Linked DNA regions of Homo sapiens: region 2 is linked to region 1. Evidence: fine-mapped expression QTL. A gene starts in region 1. The other region holds a variant in brackets. All regions are shown on one strand. Distances are from middle to middle.

Region 1 (9,850 bases):
CCTCTGGAGCGAGCCCATCGACAATCGGGGTGCCTTTGGCTTTGCCTTTCTTCCCTTTCTTTTTCGGTGCCTTTGGTGGAAATAATGGGGTAAGAGAGACTCTAACAGCTTCCCCTTCTTGGCTGGCTCTGATTTGCTCCCAGGAACATTTGGCAGAGAAGGTTCTGGAACCTCTCTCCCTTCTGCTCACCTGGAGCACATCATTGCCCTGAGTGTTCCCACCCTTTACCACACACACATCCTGTTGTTGCATTTGGAGAAGCACAAAGGAGAAACCTTCCTTTTGAGAAGGAGAACATTCCTTCTAGAAAAGAGAGGAGCCGGGCGTGGTGGCTCACGCCTGTAATCCCAGCACTTTGGGAGGCCGAGGTGGACGGATCACGAGGTCAGGAGATCAAGACCATCCCGGCTAACACAGTGAAACCCCATCTCTACTAAAAATACAAAAAAAAATTAGCCGGGCGTGCCGGTGGGCGCCTGTAGTCCCAGCTACTCGGGAGGCTGAGGCAGGAGAATGGCTTGAACCTGGGGCATGGAGTTTGCAGTGAGCCGAGATCACACCACTGCACTCCAGCCAGGACGACAGAGTGAGACTCCATCTCAAAAAAAAAAAAAAGAGAGGAAACCTAGCCAGGTGTGCTGGTGTGTGCCTATAGTCCCAGTTACTCGGGAGGCTGAGGCAGAAGAATCGCTTGAACCCGGGAGGCAGAGGCTGCAGTGAGCCAAGATCCCACCATTGCACTCCAGCCTGGGCAACAAAGTGAGACTCCATCTCAAAAAGCAAACTGTAACTTAAAAAAAAAAAAAAAGAAAAGAGAGGGAACTCATTCCAAACCCACTCATTCCTTGGTATACGGTGACCAGGCGCAGTGGCTCACACGTGTCATCCCAGCACTTTGGGAGGCCAAGGCAGGACAATCACTTGAGCCTAGAAGTTTAAGGCTGCAGTGAGCTATGGTGCACCACCGCACTCCAGCCTGGGCAGTAGAACGAGACCCCGTCTCCAAAAACTAAGAGAGGGGGGAACCCATTCCAAACCCACTCACTCCTTGGTAAAAAGTAAAGACCTCTGCTGTGGATGCAAAACAGAGGAAAGACCCTCAATACCACACTGCCAAATGTTACCATGCTGGCGGCAACATTGGTGACCACCATGGAAAAGACCTGCAAGACACCATTCAGTAAGCTTAGGGAGAAATGCCTCCATAACCACGATCGGTTGTGACAACCACAAGTTTCCTTTCTTTCAAAGAGAAACTTCCTTCAGAGAAGCCTGGTCAAGAAAGCTTGGGCAGACAGCACCCACCACGAGAGCCCTGTAAATGGGCTGCCAGACGGAACTGCACATGGCGTCGTGCGTGGTTTTAGCAACTTTGACAAGGATGGGAGAGAACCTTCTAACCCCACCCCCTTGTGGAAGTTGCTGAAACCACGCATGACACCAGGAGCAGTTCTGTCTGGCCACCCATTTACAGGGCACTCAAGCAGGTAACAAATTTCCATATCCTATCCTGCTGACTTTGCTACTCCCAGTAGTCTTCAGCCCATGCTTTTCTGTGTCTACATGTCTCGGTAACCTTTTTTAAAGACAAAGTCTTGCTCTGTCGCCCAAGCTGGAGTGCAGTGGTGTGATCACATAGCTCACTGCAGACTCCAATTCCTGGGCTCAACTGATACTCCCACCTCAGCCTCCCAAGGAGCTGGGACCACAGGAGTTCACTGCTGCTGTGCCCAGCTATGTAACGTTTTTAAAATTACAAATTTCATGTGGAAATTTTATTTATTTTTTAAAAACATTAAAACCTAAATCCATTTATCTTTTTTTTTTTTTTTTTGAGATGGAGTCTCCCTCGTCATCCAGGCTGCCTTGGCTCACTGCAACCTCCACCTCTTGGGTTCAAACAATTCTCCTGCCTCAGCCTCCACGAGGAGCTGGGACTACAGGTGCCCGCCACCACGCCTGGCTAATTTTTTTTTGTATTTTAGTAGAGACGAGGTTTCACCATGTTGGCCAGGCTGGTCTTGAACTCTCTTTTTTTTTTTTTTTTTTTTTTTTGAGACAGAGTCTTGCTCTGTTGCCCAGGCTGGAGTGCAATGGTGCGATCTCAGCTCACTGCAACCTCCGCCTCCCGGATTCAAGCCATTCTCCTGCCTCAGCCTCCTGAGTAGCTGGGATTACAGGTGCCCACCACCACGTCCGGCTAATTTTTTGTATTTTTAGTAGAGACGGGGTTTCACTATGTTGGCCAGGCTGTACTCGAACTCCTGACCCGTGATCTGCCCACCTAAGCCTCCCAAAGTGCTGGGATTACAGGCGTGAGCCACCGCGACTGGCCCATTTATCTTCATTTATGTTTCATTTAGTCCTGAATGAAAACATTAGGTGGAGCCAGGCACAGTGGCTCACACCTGTCATCCCAGCACTTTGGGAGGCTGAGGCGGGCGGATCACTTGAGGTCAGCAGTTCAAGACCAGCCTGGCCAACATGGTGAAACCCTGTCTCTACTAAAAATACAAAAAAATTAGCCAGGCGTGGTGGCGGGCACCTGTAGTCCCAGGTACTCGGGAGGCCGAGGCAGGAGAATCGCTTGAACCCAGGTGGCAGAGGTTGCAGTGAGCCAAGATCATGCCACTGCACTCCAGCCTGGGTGACAGGGTAAGACTCTACCTCAAAAAAAAAAAAAAAAAGAGAGAGAGAAAATATTATGTGGAAATTTTAGAAAACACTGATGAGAAGAAAACAGAAATATCACCCATATTCCTTGGTCCAAGGATCCAACAGACCAAGGCCCATATTCCCACAACCTAACAGAAACAGAAGTAGTTTGGTTGTGTTTAGTGTTTGCTGTTGTGTTTGCTGTTGCATTTTTTTGTTTTTTGTTTTTGTTTTTGTTTTTTTTGAGATGGAGTCTTGCTCTGTCACCCAGGCTGGAGTGCAGTGGTGCAATCCTGGCTCACTGCAACTGGAACAGGAATTAAAAGAAATTAAAAAGTGTGTAAGCAGAAACTCAGTTATATATAAGAAAACCCAACTCCCCCTGAAAAAGAGAAAGAGCTGGAGTCCTTTAAAAATTAACTGCCTGTTTTTCTGCGGCTAGTGAGCCTTGTCTCTCCTCCCTTCCCAGGCATTGTGAAGACCCTGATTCTGTAGCTGTGCGGCTGCAAGGTCACTAGGCAGATAAACTCAAGTCGCAAAACATGTTTTTCCTTAAAAAGTAAGAAATGATGTAATGCATGTTTCAACTGAACAACTGCCTTTATTTCTCACATCTGAAGCATGCTTCCCCCTGCACAGATCTCCCTCTGCCCCACGAAAAGCTTAAAAGGTAACTTAACTCTTTGTTCAGGGCTCAGTCCTTTGGATTTTAATCTGACTGGGCCGGTGCACCTAAATAATTAATAAATATCCTCCTGAACCCCATCGGTCTCTCTAATTCCTTAAAAATCCCACTACACAACCTCTACCTTCCAGGTTCAAGAAATTCTCCTGCCTCAGCCTCCCAAGTAGCTGGGACTATAGGTGCGTACCACCACACCCGGCTAATTTTGTGTGTGTGTGTGTGTGAGTGTGTGTGTGTGTGTATTTTTAGTAAAGACAGGGTTTCACCATGTTGGCCAGGCTGGTCTCCAACTCCTGGCCTCAAGTGATCCACCCACCTTGGACTCCTAAAGTGCTGGGTTTACAGGCGTCAGCCACTACACCCTGCTTTTTTTTTTTTTTTTTAAGAGACGTGTTGCCAGGCTGGAGTGCGGTGGTGCGATCTCGGCTCGCTGCAACCTCCGCCTCCCAGGTCCAAGTGATTCTCCTGCCTCAGCCTCCCGAGTAGCTGGAACTACAGGCACACGCCACCACACCCAGCTAATTTTTGTATGTTTAATAGATATGGATTTTCACCATGTTGGCCAGGATGGTCTGGATCTCCTGACCTCATGATCCGCCTGCCTCGGCCTCCCAAAGTGATGGGATTACAGGCGTGAGCCACCGCGCCCAGACTCCTGGCCTAGTTTGGTAGTTTCTTTCATAGTCGGTTTTCAGAAGACCCTTCCTGGGTCAGAAAACCCATCTACTTAAATTTAATTCGTAATGTACTGCTCTCTTTTTAATCCCTCCACTCCAAGAAGGCTACCTCATCACAAAGCCCTGAAGGCAGTGGAGGAAGGTTCAGCATTACTTAGCATTTGGGACCTTCACAGCCAGCTGCAGGGACTTGGTGGGGCTCCCAGAGCTTTCCTCCCCCCACCAGCTGAAACCCACCCTGCCACACCTGCCCAGAAATTGAGTTACTGACAATTCCTGTACCACAAAGGGAGAGCCCTTTACAAGAGAAAGACAGACATGGAGCTGATGAGGCCACGAGCTCCGCCTTCCTCTTCTCGGTCTGGGCCTGACTCCTGCCAGGCTTTCCAAGGGAACAGTGGTTCCTGTATCCCAAGGTTGTGCCCTGGGCACTCCAAGGGCACTGGACCTGTCCGGGCCTCCTTGGTGTAGAGGGATCTCTAGCCACTCTGGTGTGCCCCAGGCTCTCCATCCGGGAGACCAAAGGTCTTAGGGTAATTCCTGCCTCCGGCTCTATTCCATGGGGACCCTGGTGCTCTGCAAAGCCTCGTGAGCTGAAACCCTAGGTCCCAGGGATCCAACAGACCGAGTCTGCCATTCCAGGATGAGAGTCCCCTTGACGCATGTTCACTCTTCTGGGGACCGTGCGCCGCCGACCCCGGGCCCTGGGCGTTCTATGACCACCCCTGTGAGCACAGGGCTCTGGACAGCCCAGGTCTCAGTCCCGAGTGCTGCCAGGCCCCGGGGCCGGGAGCATCCTGAGTTTGCCCCACGGAGACCCCCACAAGAGCACCGAGCTCTCAATTCCAGAAACCCAGCGCTCCAGGCCTCCCATTCCCAGGGTCTCCGTGTACCGAGGCCTCCCTGCCCCGAGGTCTCCGGGCCCCTGCCGAGGACCCCAGCCCCGCTCCCGCCCCTGCTCACCATGACGCCAGCGGACAGGCCCAGCGGCGACTCCGGGACCAGGGCGCCCGCCCCCGGAAGCCACGCCGTTTCCCGGCAACCGCTGGGCGATGCCGCGATAAGTCACAAGATCCTCGCGAGACTCCGCCGGGCAGCGGCCCTGCCAAAGGCGGGAGTGCGTCCCTAGAGACGGGCGTCCGGAAGGAACCCGGTTGTGAACGTTGGGAAAATGTCGCCGGCAGCCCAGAAGCCTTTCGCTGCAGGGCATGTTTTGCTTATTGCTGGAACCTAAGCTCCACGAGGGGGGAACCCTTCACTTCTATCCTTCAGCGCCTAGAACAGCACACAGCACGTGCTCAGTAAAGACGTGCTGATGAAGGACCATTGAAGGAATGATCAATCAGCCACCCAAGCCTCTGAAACTTTCCCCAAATGAGATTCAAATCTGGGCAAACACTCTATCCCCTGGGCCTCACTCACCCCACCCGCCCACCTTTGAAGGGCCCTCCCAGCTGCTGCGCTGGTGGGTTTACACACACCTCAAAAACGCAGAAATCGGAAAGAAAAATACGTTCCAGTTTAGTTCCAAATGTTTGAAATCAGTAAGTATTCCTTTCACAAAAATAAACTGCTCTTCCTGAAGAGGCCTCCTCCCCACTCCTCACGGATGAAAAGAAACCAGAGGCTTCCCGACAGGCCCTGCAGAAAACAAACAGCTGCCACTTTCCTTTTCTAACTAATCTCTTGTTCTGAAAACTGCTAGCCATTTTACAATTTCTAAAATGAATCTGCCATCCGTGAAACCACCCTGTTACCTACATACAACCATCTATGTCACCCAGAAAGCTGAGTTTGTCATAAACAGGTGCTTTTTTTTTTTTTTTTTTTTGGAGACAGGGTCTCCTTCTGTCGCCTAGGCTGTGATCACAACTCACTGCAGCCTCGACCTCCTGGGCTCAAGCAATCCTCCCACCTCAGCCTCCTGAGAAGCCAGGACTACAGGTGTGAGACACCATACCCAGCTTTTTTTTTTAAGTTTTTAATAGAGACGGGGTCTTGCTTTATTGCCCAGAGTGGTCTCAAACTCCTGGCCTCAAGTGATCCTCCTGCCTCGGCCTCCCAAAGTGCTGGGAGCACGTGAGCCCCACGCCCAGCCCTAAGCTCTCATCTTTAACATCTTCTTAAAAAGTGGTCATCTACTTGGGAGGTTGAGGTGGGAGAATCGTTTGAGCCCTGGAGGTGGAGGTTGCAGTGAGCCAAGATCACACCACTTCACTCCAGCCTAGGTAACAGAATGAGACCTGAGACCCTGTCTCAAAAAAAAAAAGAAAAGGTCTTGTAGCAGATCTTGTTCTCCCATGTGTCTGGGGATGAAGAGTACAGAATCCATGCTCGTAGAAAGTTGTGCTGGGGGCAAAGTGTGAGAAATGAAAGAAGGCCTGGTGGACCTAGGTCTTCCTGTCCAGCTGGGGGAGGAAGTTGCCACATGAGCTGGGTTTGCTCAGGCCTCAGGCACCCACACAGTGGTGGGAATCTGAGAACCACTGTGATGAGAGACTTCCTGTTTGCCCACCTAAGTCCTGATTGTTCTTGGAGAGGAGCAGCCAGTTGGAAGAACTGCATTGGCTCAGCTTGCACAAAGCAGTGATTTATTTATAGTAAGCCCTGAGGCCTCTGTGAAGTCTGGCTGGTCACTGTGCCTGGGCAACCAGGAGCCAGCATCACTGTGCCAGACTCCCTTGGCCTGAGAGGGGCCTCCTCCCCCTGGGACAGGGTGGTCAGACAGTGACGCTGGAGAGCACAGTGGGGGTAATTATTATAATTTAACACTTACTTCACAAAACCAATATGCTAGCAGCTTCATGCTGATTGGCTTTTTGCTTCAGAAGTCTGGATGAGTGTCCTGAATTAAATAGCTGTATTAACAATAATTCCTTTCAGCAAAAAGGGCAAGAATAGGAGGGTTAGCTCAGGATAGCCTAGACAGGGTACTCATTTTTCACAAGCTAAGAGCAATCCTGGTCTGTCGGTGTGGGCTGCAGAGATGAATCATTCAGGGAGCCCTGAATTGCGGCTCCCTGGGATCCCGACAGGGCCCACTGCGACCTGTTCTTTTCATATTGAATTCGAGTTCAGATTTTTAGAAAAGAGCCTTTTCTTCACATATGTGGCTTAAGATACTTTCATTCAGTGTCAAGCTGTGCAGCTCAGAAACCCAGATAAATGGCATCTGAGTTTCCTGCAAAATCCCAGAGCAAATGTTAATACAAACAAACCGACTGCCCTCTGTCTGATGTCTGATGCTTCCTGCCACCCACTATCCACCAGGTAAACCGCCTCAGGCCACGGCATCAACTCAGTGAAGGCCTGGATGCTGGGTTAACAAGAGTGTTTATGAAGACTAGACTTTTTCTTTTCTTTTCTTTTCTTTTTTTTTTTTGAGACATACAATCATAGCTCACGGCAGCCTTGGACTCCTGAGCTCAAGCTGTGCTCCCACCTCAGCCTCCCAAAGGGCTGGGATTACAGGCATGAGTCAATGCTCCTGCAAACGGACTTTCTTTGAGAGATAAATATTGAAGTACTTACAAATGCAATGATCTAATGTGTATATAATTTGCTTCAAAATGACCCAGCAGTGGAGGGAAGTGAATGAGGACAGAGAAGCAGTGGCCCAGGCCAGGAGCTGGCAATCGCTGAATCTGGGCGATAGGGACATGGGGGTCAGTTTCATCGAAACTGCCTTGGCGCTCTCTGCAGCCCGGGCCCGCCGCCCTCTCCTTACCTCCCATCCCCCATCCCGCCCCTTCCAGCCTCCCAAGCACACGCCCTCGCCCCCACCCGCCCCCCGCGTTAATTCGCGCCATCCAGGGCGCTCTGTGAGTCTGTCATTACCCAGCGCGAGTCAGGCCCCTCCTGTGCCCCTCGCCAGCCCCGAGGGGCGCCCGCACACAGTCGGCGCCCCACACGCAAGTACCTGGAAGAGAACAAGAGGACGCCAGCGGGCGCGGCCGCCAAGTGAGTGCGCAGGAGCCCCGGACGCCCGGCCGGGGTCGGGAGGGCGCAGCCAGGTCCCGGTGGTGTCCGCGGCGGGGCGCGGCCCGCGAGGGAAGGGTCGGCGGGGGAGGGGTCCGCTGGGCCAGGGGCCAGCAGGGGGCGCGCGCGGGCCGGGGCGGGGCCGCACCTGTCCTGCGGCTGGGGGGGCGCCGGGAGGGGGCCGGGGCCCGGGAGCAGCTGCGCGCCCCGCCCCGCCCCGCGGGCTCCTCCCTGCCGCCGCGGCCCCCCGGTTGCTGCCCCGATGCGCTGCGCCCGGAGCCGGGGCCGAGTCGCTGCCGCAGCTGTTGGGGCGCCCGGGCCAGGCGACGCCGCCGTCGCCCGTGCCCCTCCCAGACCGCACCGGCCGCATGGAGCCCCCGGAGGGCGCCGGCACCGGAGGTGAGTTCAGCCCCAGCCCCCGAGACCCCCGCGCAGCGCTTCCCCGCAGCGAGCCGCAGCCCCTCCCCCCAGGGCTCACCCTTCGCCGCTCCCGGGAGTCGCGAAGACCCCTTTGGCAGCTCGGGGTCGTCCGGCGGGCCAGGGGCACCTCCCGGGCGCGGTCCCCGCGCGGGGCTGGGGGCACACGGACCGAGTCTCCGCCCCCTTGTTCTCTGCGCTCCCGGCCCGGGAAGCCGTGCCCGGCACGCTCCTTGGTGGGTGGCCCGGAGTTTCGTCCTGAGCCCCCTCCCAGCCAAGCCAGCCGGTGACCCGGGGAGCGGGGGAGGGGGGTTCCGGGGCTGGAGTTTGGGGTCCCTGTCGGTGGGGCGTGAGGGCGACGCTGGCCGCTTGCAAGCGCGTCCGCTTTGTTCGCCCAGCCGCGAGTCCCGGGGGGCGAGGGCCGTAGACTCGCGGGCAGGGATCCTGCCAGGGGCGAGGGGCTGAGATGGGTCTTGGGGATGTGGGGCATGCACGGGCGCGGCCTGCCGGGGACTCCAGAGCTGCAAGGGTGGCTGGTCCGGGAGTGGCCCAGGCGCACGCTCATCGGGGAGGGTAGGTGCGCGTGGAGCGCTCCCTGCCCTGATGGTGGAGGCCCTACTGCAGGACCTTGGAGTCGGTAACGGGAAGAAAGCTCTCAGAACCTCCCCCCTTCCCGATCAGAGACTTTTCCAAAAGGGCTTTCGGGGTTCCATTTGCCTAGGTAGGAACTTGGATGCAAACTGCAGACTCCTCCACCTGCCCAGCCAAGCCCACCACCTCCTGGTTTCCTAGAGCTCCCATTCCAGGGAGCCAGCAGGTGCCTGAGGGCACAGGCAGGCCAGCCTGCCGCTCTGGAACTACATGGGAACCTCTCAGTCCCCCAGCCGCACACAGTGGCATCCTCTGGAGCCCGAAGGGCTGTCCCCGGGAGGAGCAGGTCCACCCACCCTGTGTATCTGCAGTCCAAGGTATAGGGACAAATGCCCCAGGGCTGGTGGGTTTGGGTTTTGATTTGTCATTTGTGGGAGGGACCAGAGCTCTTTCTTAACACTGATAGTCCCAGGCTCCTGGGTATTCCCAGTAGCAGCTTTGTGGACATAGGAAGCCTGGAGGTTGGGAGTGAGGGCTTGGGGGTCTCCGAGCTGTTTCCAGCTGTGAACTGTGGGCAGTCAGGCCCCTGTGAGCCTCAATTTCCATTTCTGTCAGTGGAGACAGTTCTGCTTCCCCTGCAGGGCTGTGGGAGCCCAAGGCATTTGGGAGTGGAGGTTAATATGTTTTCCCTCCTCCTTTGGGAAAAAAGGAGGACTTCCCAGCAGCTTAAAAGGCAGAGAAAGCAGGTTCAGTTTCTGAGCCCATCAGTCACTGGCTGGGGGCTTCAGACACCTGACTCAATCAGTGCACAGGTATTTACCTACAGGTCGCAGCTCTGTGCAGTAC
Region 2 (9,850 bases), 22 kb before region 1:
AGGAGAGGGGGGAGGTTACGTGGCAACCCCCAAAAGGACTGATCATTGCTTTGTCACTTTATTTATAACATTTGAGACTTTCGAAAAAGTAATACAAGCCCACTAGAATTTCTCAGAGTACAAAATGTTAAAGAGTCAAAATAAATATACTCCATCTGCAACTGCTTATCTCGAGAGGTGGTCACTGGGATGACTGTTTTGTGTATCCTATTGTGAAATATTCCAATATATGGCCTCCCTGTGCCTCAGTTTCCTGCTTTGTAAGGTAGGGACAACAATACACCAGGAGGTTGTTATGAGGATTGAATTAGCTAATCCTTGCAATTCAGTGAAAGCTAGATACGAATTTACAAGCTTCCCCCCTCTTACACACTGTTTTGTCCTTTGTCACTAGTTGTTTTTCCAGGAGAATTCTCATCTTACACACAAATGGGCCTCATGCTTTTTAAAGGGCTGCAGAGTACCCTGGCGTTTATGGAATTTTCCCCACTGGGGCCAGTCTGGTTGTCTCTGGCCTCTGGCACCCATGGGCATTTGCCATAACAGTTGTGAGCCTCTCTTTAGGATTATCTCCTATAAACAGAAGCCACAACAAATGTCGTGTGTGTGGATCCCAAATAGATGTTTCCTAACTAGTCCCAAGGTAGTTGTAGCCAGAATACTCCCAACCTTTGCTGAGAGGGGTCTCCTCCCTTGCCTTTGAATGGCCTAATTCTTAATCTACAAATCACCCATGCCGAACACCCAAGAACTGGAAATGCAGCTTGACAGGAAGAAAGAAGTTCCCGGCCAGGCGCGGTGGCTCACGCTTGTAATCCCAGCACTTTGGGAGGCCGAGGCGAGCTGATCACGAGGTTAGTAGTTCGAGACCAGCCTGGCCAACACAGTGAAACCCCATCTCTACTAAAACTACAAAAATTAGCTGGGCATGGTGGCAGGCGTTTGTAATCCCAGCTACTCACCGCTAGAACCAAGGAGGCGGAGGTTGCAGTGAGCCGAGATTGTGCCACTGCACTCCAGCCTAGGCGACAGAGTGTGACTCCGTCTCAAAAAAAAAAAAAGTTCCCAGATCCCAGAGCAGGACAGCCAGTCCACCATCATGCGGGTGCAGCGTTTCCCAGATTTTAAATAGAGAATGTCCGTTATTTCATTAATACATTGTGGCAGGTGAACGACTGCCAGTGGCTTGAGGATAAAAGAATTTACCAAGACAGTTGTATGTAAGAGAAGGCAGATTTACTAGAGAAAGTAGGAAAATACGTTGCCAGAGAGAAGACGGGCAGCCAGCAGAAGAGAAACTGACTGCACAGAAACAAAGCCTTGCTGGAGAGTGTGCGTTAATAACCTTCAGGCGTCTGGTGAGACTGGGGCGCAGGAAGAATGTGTTATTTGCCGTGTGTCTGGAGGGCTGTGTGTCCTGGAGCATGAAGAAGGCAGACTAGTAGCTTGTCTGCTTTCTCTGTTTGCTTTCCCCTGCCTCCCTTTCCCTAATGAGGACTTCACATATATAACATATAGTCAAAATGTGTTCTCTGTATATTACGTAAGGTTAATACAACGATGGATACTCGCCGGCACACGCAGTTCTATGGCTTTTCTCACTTTCTGCAGGGCACGGGCCTCCACCCTGCGCTCATCCACCGCGCGTTGCGGGGAGGAAGGGCGGGGGGGAGGTCAGCTCAGAGAGCTTCACCTACGGAGCCATATCAACAATCTGAGGAGTCACCACTGCTCCCATTTTACAGATGAGAAAACCGAGGCAAGGTCACATGGCCTGTCGGGGGAAACTTACCCTGTGAGGGGCTTCCATGAGAAACCTGCGGGCCTCTGAGCCTCCCAGGGGAGAGATGGGCCCCGCGCCGTCCCCAGTCTCGCGCAGGTCTTCTTGGGACCCACCTGGCCCGCCCCCATCCCCTCCATCCCCCCATCCCCCCGTCCCGCCGTCCCCCCGCCCCCTCTCACAGCGGTCCCGCCCCCCGCTCCCTCTCACCGCGGTCCCGCCCCCTCTCACCGCGGTCCCGCCCCCTCTCACCGCGGTCCCGCCCCCTCTCACCGCGGTCCCGCCCCCTCTCACCGCGGCCCCGCCCCCTCACCGCGGCCCCGCCCCATCTCACCGCGGCCCCGCCCCCCGCCCCCTCTCACCGCGGTCCCGCCCCTTCTCACCGCGGCCCCGCCCCCGTCCCCGCCCCCACCACCCCCCAGCAGGTCCTCGCGACTCCGCTTCTGGGCCCCAGGTCTGTGCGCCCTGATTCGCCACCAGCGCACCTTCCTGGGCAAAGCCCCGCTGGGGCCCTCCTGGTGGGCACGAGGTGGTCCGGGGCGGGGTGACCGGCCCCGCCCTTCCCTTTGCCCGCGGGCGTCGCAGTCCGGCAGGGCAGGATGAGCCCCCGGGCCGTCCCGCGGCTGCTGAGGCTCCAGCGACACCTAGGCCCCCAGGAGGTTAGGGGGCCAGGCCTGGACCTGCAGGGCTCCTGTCCCCTCAGCTGCTTGCGTGGGGCTGAGCGTCGAGGGCCCAGGAACCGGGGCGCGGAGGAGAGCCCAGTTCCGGGAGAACCACCCCAGGGGCTGGAACTGAGGGCCTGGGGGGAAATGGCCATTTCGTGGGGCCGTGGGCGGGACAGTGGGTGTCCCCAGTGGGGCAGGGGAGCCACAGGGATTGGTGGGGGAGGGTCGGCAGGCACAGGCTGCGCTGTTTACGTTTGGTGCCTCATCAGCTGCCTGGGCACTTCCGGTCACCCTTGCCCCCTGTCCCCTGGGCAGCTCGGAGAACTCTGTCCAGAGGGCTGTTTAAGCCCCACAGCTGGTGTGGACGCAGGATTGGTGTGGGTAGGCGGGCACAGGGCTCCAGAGGCTCACCCTGGCCTCCTTCTCCTGGCCCAGGGCAGCAGCACGGAGCCTCCGGACAACCTACTGACCACCCACGTGCTGGACACCGCCTCAGGGCTCCCAGCCAGAGGCCTCTGCCTCCGCTTGTGCTGGCTGGAGGACCACGGCCAGCAGTGGGCGGAGCTGAGGACAAGGTAGGAGAGAGGCCCTGGGAGGGGGAGTGCCGCCCTGAGACAGATGGCGGGGACTAAGGGGCCAGGCAGTGAGGCTGGAGGGCGGAGCTCACCGCTGCCGACCCTCCTCTCAGCCCGGGTTGGGAGTGAGGTTAGGGGCTCTCTCTTCTGCTTCTCTCAGCCCGTTTCCTCCTCTGAAAATACAGGGATGAGGAGAGGAGCTCTTTCCTCCCTCCCTCCAGCCTCAGGCCCCTGTGACCCTGATGGGGTGGGAGTGAGTTTCTGCCTCTCCCTGGCAGCTGTGCCAGGGCGAGGGCGGGGGGTGGTGGTGAGGTGAGGCCTGAGGTGGCATCGAAGAGCTCACTGAGATCACGGGTAACCTTGTGCCAGGCAGTACGCTGGACATTATTTCCACTCTTTTCATTCTCCATACACCCCGTGGGCCAGCACCATAATTCACCCTTCTACACATGGGAAGACTGAGGTAGCAAGCCCAGGTGCGTGCTGGGATTCCCAGCCAGGCCTGAGGGGCAGTGTGTCCCTCAGCCTCCATGGGGTCTTGCCCACTGCCCCAGGCACAGGCTCTGCGCGGCACTTCCAGAGGCAGATGTCACCCACCCAGGCCTCATGGCCCCTGCGTAAGAGGCAGGCCCCCTCCCTTCCAGCCAGAAGGACAGGGCTGGGCCCATAGGATCAGAGAGAGTCTGACCCTGCCGCTCCTACAGTCGTGTGGTCCTTCACAAAAGCTGAGACACGAGGGGTCCAGGTCCCACCTGAGCAATTAGGACAGCACTGTGTGGGCTGGGCGTCCCGTGCAGGGTCACAGAGACTCATTACCCTCATGCACACACGCTATGTTTGTTGTTGTTGTTGTTGTTGAGACAGAGTTTCACTCTTCTTGCCCAGGCTAGAGTACAATGGCGTGGCATCAGCTCACCGCAACCTCCGCCTCCTGGGTTCAAGCGATTCTCCTGCCTCAGCCTCCCTAGTAGCTGGGATTACAGGCATGCACCACCACGCCAGCTAATTTTGTATTTGTAGTACAGACGGGGTTTCTCTACGTTGGTCAGGCTGGTCTCAAACTCCCGACCTCAGGTGATCCACCCACCTCGACCTCCCAAAGTGCTGGGATTACAGGCGTGAGCCACCACACCCAGCGTGCTATGCTCTTTTTCTTTTTTGAGATGGAGTCTCTCTGTTGCCCAGGATGGAGTGCAGTGGCACGATCTTGGCTCACTGCAGCCTCCACCTACCCAGTTCAAGCAATTCTTGGCCTCAGCCTCTCGAGTAGCTGGGATTACAAGCACCTGCCACCACCCCCGGCTAATTTTTGTATTTTTAGTAGAGACAGGGTTTCACCATCTTGGCCAGACTGATCTTGAACTCCTGACCTCGTGATCCACCCACCTTGGCCTCCCAAAGTGCTGGGATTACTGGTGTGAGCCACCTTGTTCGGGCCTGCTCTTTCTAATCACAGCAGAAGCGCACACTTTAAAGACCAGCTGGCAAGAATGATGGGAGGTTTTCCAGAAGTGACTATGGGCAAAGCCACGGTTATTCAGAACCCTGATAAGGGACCAGGGCACACAACACAGACGCTCCGTGGAGTTGGACAGGCCCACTCTGTGGGTGAAGGTTTGGTAGTTATTGACCCAGAAAGCCACACAC[T/ATT]TTTTTTTTTTTTTTTTTTTTTTTTTTGAGATGGAGTCTCGCTCTGTCGCCCAGGCTGGAGTGCAGTGGCACGATCTCGGCTCACTACAGCCTCCGCCTCCTGGGTTCATGCCATTCTCCCGCCTCAGCCTCCCGAGTTGGGACTACAGGTGCCCGTGACCACGCCCAGCTAATTTTTTTGTGGTAGAGATGGGGTTTCACCGTGTTAACCAGGATGGTCTCGATACCCTGACCTCATGATCCGCCTGTCTCAGCCTCCCAAAGTGCTGGGATTACAGGTGTGAGCCACCACGCCCAGCCAGCCATACACAATATTTTAAGTGAAAACCACAGGTTATAAAACAATACAAATAGTATAATCCACTTTATAAGTTTTTAAACAAATATACTTATGCATAGAGAAAATCTGGAAAAATATATGCCAGCTATAAAGTGGTTCTTGCTCATGGGATAAATTGTGGGAGACTTTTTCCCTTTTTGCTTCTCTGTGTTGTGATTTCCTAAAGACAGGGCAGTGGTGTCCCTAGACTGCTCTGGAACTGCAGGACCTAACAGCCTCACTGTGTCTGCTCACCCAAGTCTGACAGGTGGCAGGGCAGTGTCTGAGGCCCACTGGGATGCAGACCCAGGAAAGCTGGGGTGGGGGGCTTCTGGTCCCCATCTCTGCAGCCTCATCCTCTCCCCAGCTACACAGACCCAGATGGTCACTGTCCTGGACCAGATGAAGGCAGGCACCTACAAGCTCACCTTCGACACTGAGGGCTACTGGAGGAAGAGGGGGCAGGAAAGCTTCTACCCACATGTGGAGGTGAGAGCCCCAGTGGGCTGGAGGGGGCTGAGGCTCATGACTCACTGGGATCTGCAGGCCAGGTCCTGCTGGCCGGGCATCATTTAGGCAGTGGGCAGACTGGTCCTGGGCGGTGGCAGGTAGGTGAGCTCACTTGCTTTGAGCTCCCAAAAGAAAGGTGTCCAGGCAGCAATAGACTCTACGAGGACACACCCGTCACTCACCTGCCCAGGGTCAGGCTTTGTGGGGAGGCTGGGCCAAGGGTGATTCATCCCCTCTTTGTTGACAGAGGTTTTCATCTGAGCCAACTCCAGCTCTCTGGGCCTAACCTCACTGCCTCACCCCACACTGGAGCCGCCGCAGAAGCGCCTGACTTACTGGGCTGTGGCTTCTGTGGAGTGTCCCTCTGGTGCGGAAGGTTCACCCCATCCCAGACCCTCAGTCTGGGCTGCTGAATTCTCTCAGGTGTGTTGGGGCCAGATAGGTGGTTTGCTGCTATCCCCTTATACTCTCTCCTGGCCTCTCCATCTCAGGTTGTTTTAACCATCACCAGCAAGGCCCAGAAGTTCCACGTGCCCCTGGTCCTACATCACCTACCGAGGGAGTTAGAGCGAAGACTGGCAGCGGGAGGCTGCCTGCCCGTTCCCGCACGCTGGCTGCACCCACCCAGCCCTCAACAGAGCGGGCTTTGTGCTCATCAGGGAGCATTGGCTCACCACTTCCTAGGGAAGTCCCGGCCCCCTGGAGAATCCCACTGGGCAGCTGTGACTCAGGTGTCAATGAAGTTAGTGCCAGCACCTGCAAAGCTGTCCATTCGGTGGGACAACAGTGGCGCGAAGACAGGCAGCACAGCGCGGCACTGCCCCAACCCCCAGGTGAGTGCGGGGCACTCTGAGAAGGTGCCGCCGACTGTGGTCGGAGGTGAGACCAGGGAGTAGGCCTGGACACAGGCTGGACGTGCGGCACCCAGGGAAGGGAGCGACAGGGACACCATGGGTGAGGGTCCTGCAGGTGGTTCTCCTCCACAGAGCCAGGAAAGAGGATGGCAAGAACATGTGAAAAGCTTTCATTTGCTGATGATAAAATCTAAAAAACTTGCTGTCCTTGGTGTGATAAGGGGTGTCATCCCGAGTGTTCCTAGGCTGGTTCTCTGGGCTGTGGCCCCCCAGGGGGGCAGCTACGTCGGGGTGCCCACCAGTCCCGCGGGGCCCTGGCCCAGTGTCTGTCCGATCACAGCTGTTTCCAAGGGCTTGAAGCCCACGTTGTCCAGAGGGATCCCGAAGGCCAGCAGCTTTGCCTCATACGTGCGCAGCAGGTCGTTATGGGCCTGTGGAGACAGGGCAGTGTCAGGGAGCTGAGGGTCCCCACGCTCAGGACCACCAGAGCTGAGTGCAGCTCCATGGAGGGGCAGCGTGAGCATCACGGTGCAGAAGGATAAAGCCAAAGGCTTATCAGTCATTTCCCGTGTGGGACACAGCTCCAAGCACCTTCACTGCGTTGGCTCAGGTAGCACGACAGGGAGAGGCTGTCACTATTCCTATTCCACAAATGACGAGACGGAGGCAGAGGGCAGGGACACTCAGGGCAGAGCTGTGGTCTGGGAGGGCTCTGGGCCCTGGCTGGGTGTTTCCCACTCAGGTTCTTCACGCCCTCCCTTCCCCTGTTGAATGACGTCTGTTTCCTTCCCCGGTGGGCACAGCACCTTCTGACTCCCTGCCCAGGGGAAGGGGCTGACCAGGGAAGCGTCCAGGTCCCCCCCTACACCCATCCCAGCAGAGACATGGCCTAGACAGCAGTGCACTGCCCCAGACCACACAGAATCCAGATGCTCTCGGCTATGACTGCACCCTCACGTGGGGACAGTGACAGCTGCCTTGTCAAACGAGGTACGAAGTGGGCACAGGTGGGGTCCTCAGAGACCGTCTGCATTTAGAACAGTCTGGGCACCGAGGGGGTGCCCCTGAGGGAGGGCAGGGCACAGCCGTACCTTACAGACCTGGGCCAGCTCATACTGCAGGTCCTTGATGGTGCTGTTCTTCGACTCAAGAACATCCTGAGGAGAGAGAGGTGATGGGAGTTTGAGACTCATCTTTTGGCCGAGGCAACGGGAGCGGCCTGGGGACTCCAGTGGGCGTTCTGAGAGATCCAGCGAATAGCAGCCTGGTTTGATGGATGCATCCATCCACACAGGGTTGTCAGCAGAAAAAGGTCTCCAAGGGTGGAGAGAAAACAAGGAAGAAGCAGAGAACTGGGAGCTTGCACAACCTGCCTCTCCAGCAACAGTCCAGGCCAGGCACTGCCGCTCACACCTGTGATCCCAGCAGTGTGGGAGGCCAAGGAGGGCAGATCACTTGAGGTCAGGAGTTTGAGACCAGCCTGGCCAACGTGGCGAAACCCCGTCTCTACTATACGAAAAGTAGCCGGGCACGGTGGCTCACACCTGTGTAATCCCAGCTACTCAGGAGGCTGAGGCATGAGAATTGCTTGAACCTGGGAAACGGAGGTTGCAGTGCGCCGAGATTGAGCCACTGCACTCCAGTCTGGGTGACAGAGCAAGACACCGTCTCAAGAAAAAACTCAAAGAGCAGTCCAGACCACAAGAAATGCAGATGAGGTGAGGGCAGGCAGCGTGCAGCCACACTGTGGAGACTGGTCACTAAACACCACCTACATATTGCTTAAATTTCTTGAGGCTTGTGAATGTACTATCTCACTTTTTTTTCTGAGATGGAGTCTCGCCCCGTTGCCCAGGCTGGAGTGCAGTGGCGCGATCTAGGCTCACCGCAACCTCCGCCTCCCAGGTGCCAGGAATTCTCTGCCTCAGCCTCCCAAATAGCTGGGATTACACCCGCCACCAAGCCCAGCTAATTTTTGTATTTTTAGTAGAGACGGGGTTTCACCATCTTGGCCAGGCTGGTCTTGAACTCCCAAACTCGTGATCTGCCCACCTCAGCCTCCCAAAGTGCTGGGATTACAGGCGTGAGCCACCGCGCCCGGCTATCCCACTTTTTTGTAACAGAAAAAAGTAGTCTTCAGCAGCGCTGGCCCCGCCCAGATGTGGGCAAGGGTCTCACCACGTGGCGAGGCAGGGACTTCTTGGGCTCCTGCCTGTGGGGCACTGCTGGGCCCAGCCTGGCTTTAGAGCCGTCCCTGCTGCCCACTGACACAGCAGCCCCCTCACACCTGGCCAGCAGCAAACAGTGTCCCTGCGGGGGCCTCTGTCATTTCCCCAGAAGATTCCTCACTTAGAAGTCGAGGTAACAATGACCAGGAAAGGAGGGGTTGACCCACATTTAGCTCCATCCTCCATCCTCACCCTGGCGCGTGGGCGCAGCTGCAATGACCCTCACAGGCCACGACTGCTCTCTTCACCCTCATTTCGGTGGCTTAGCAGCAGGCTGGGTGCAGCCCTCAGCCAGGAGCTGGAAACACGCCTCCCCCACCTCCCAACAGTGGGACCCTCACTCCCTCACCTGCCTGTGCTCACTGGGCCCAGTGCTGAGCAAACAAAGATGAGTTTTCAGTCCCGGGGCCACAGTGCCTCTGGCCCAGGTGAGGCCCCTCCTATACAGCCTCACTACCTCAGGCCCTGAGAGCCAGGCCATCCCAGATGACCAGGGTCCCACAGGCACCACCGCCCACTGGGCCGGGACCCGTCGTTCCCCCATGTGCAAACACCAAGTCACCTCGGCCCCTCCCAGCCCCACCTGTGGACTCAGCCTCCTGGCGGCTCTCCAACCCTCTGCCCGTCCCCATTCTGTGCTGGCCCCAACCAGCCCCCTCCAGCCCTGTGCTCCCCATCAATAGCAGAGTGGGCCCTGATCTGGTTCCCCTGCCCAGCCCTTCCACAGTTCCCAACTGGCCCGAAACTGGCCACAGGAAACCCATGAATGCCCCTCCTCAGTGGCCGACCGAGGGGTCTCTGTGCCTATCCGAGGAGCAGCACAGAACTGAAGACTCTTGCCACAGGGATGAGGCCGCCCACTGGGGTCAGGAGCCTGTCTAGGGCCTACCTCCAGCTTGCGGGACACCAGCGTCAGGGCTGCAGGGTCCAGGTTAGAGGCAGCCAGGACCTCGTTGAACTGCACCTCCTTCTTCTCCACAGCGGCGCTCAGAGCCTGCAGCTTGCGTTCTAGCACGAGGTTCTTGAACCCTGTCTTCTGCTGCACCTCCTGGATGGCTGCGGTGAACTTCCGATAGAGCTCGTCCCGCTCCTGCTGCACCTGTAGGGACAGCGCTGGGGGTGGGCGATGAGGCCCCTCACCTGGGGACATCTCGCTGGGAAGATGCTGCCTCCCACCTCTGCACCTGCCTGGAACACGCTGCCTCCCAACAGTGCCCACTCCCACAGCACCGGGGTCAGTGTGTTGTCCACACTGCCTGCGCCCTGGCCCTT

Evidence for each region.
Region 2: its variant is fine-mapped to the expression of DRC4 in prefrontal cortex (BrainSeq, PIP 0.95).

The regions. Positions count from the first base shown.
Region 1 is chr16:90,017,856-90,027,705 of GRCh38, reverse strand. It overlaps DRC4 (dynein regulatory complex subunit 4), which reads right to left and starts at 5,026. Exons shown (of 11, transcript NM_001481.3): 1 at 4,982-5,026; 2 at 1-70. The coding sequence starts at 4,984. It overlaps DBNDD1 (dysbindin domain containing 1), which reads left to right and starts at 8,250. Exons shown (of 4, transcript NM_001042610.3): 1 at 8,250-8,395. The coding sequence starts at 8,365. RefSeq lists silencers at 6,951-7,245, 7,992-8,131.
Region 2 is chr16:90,040,127-90,049,976 of GRCh38, reverse strand. It overlaps DRC4 (dynein regulatory complex subunit 4), which reads right to left. Exons shown (of 11, transcript NM_001481.3): 9 at 9,468-9,677; 10 at 7,442-7,507; 11 at 5,017-6,781. The coding sequence ends at 6,632. It also overlaps the pseudogene URAHP. Among named protein-coding and RNA genes, the nearest start is that of GAS8-AS1, 15 kb to the right of the region's middle. RefSeq lists an enhancer at 3,041-3,554. The variant T/ATT (reference allele first, on the strand shown) is at 4,668.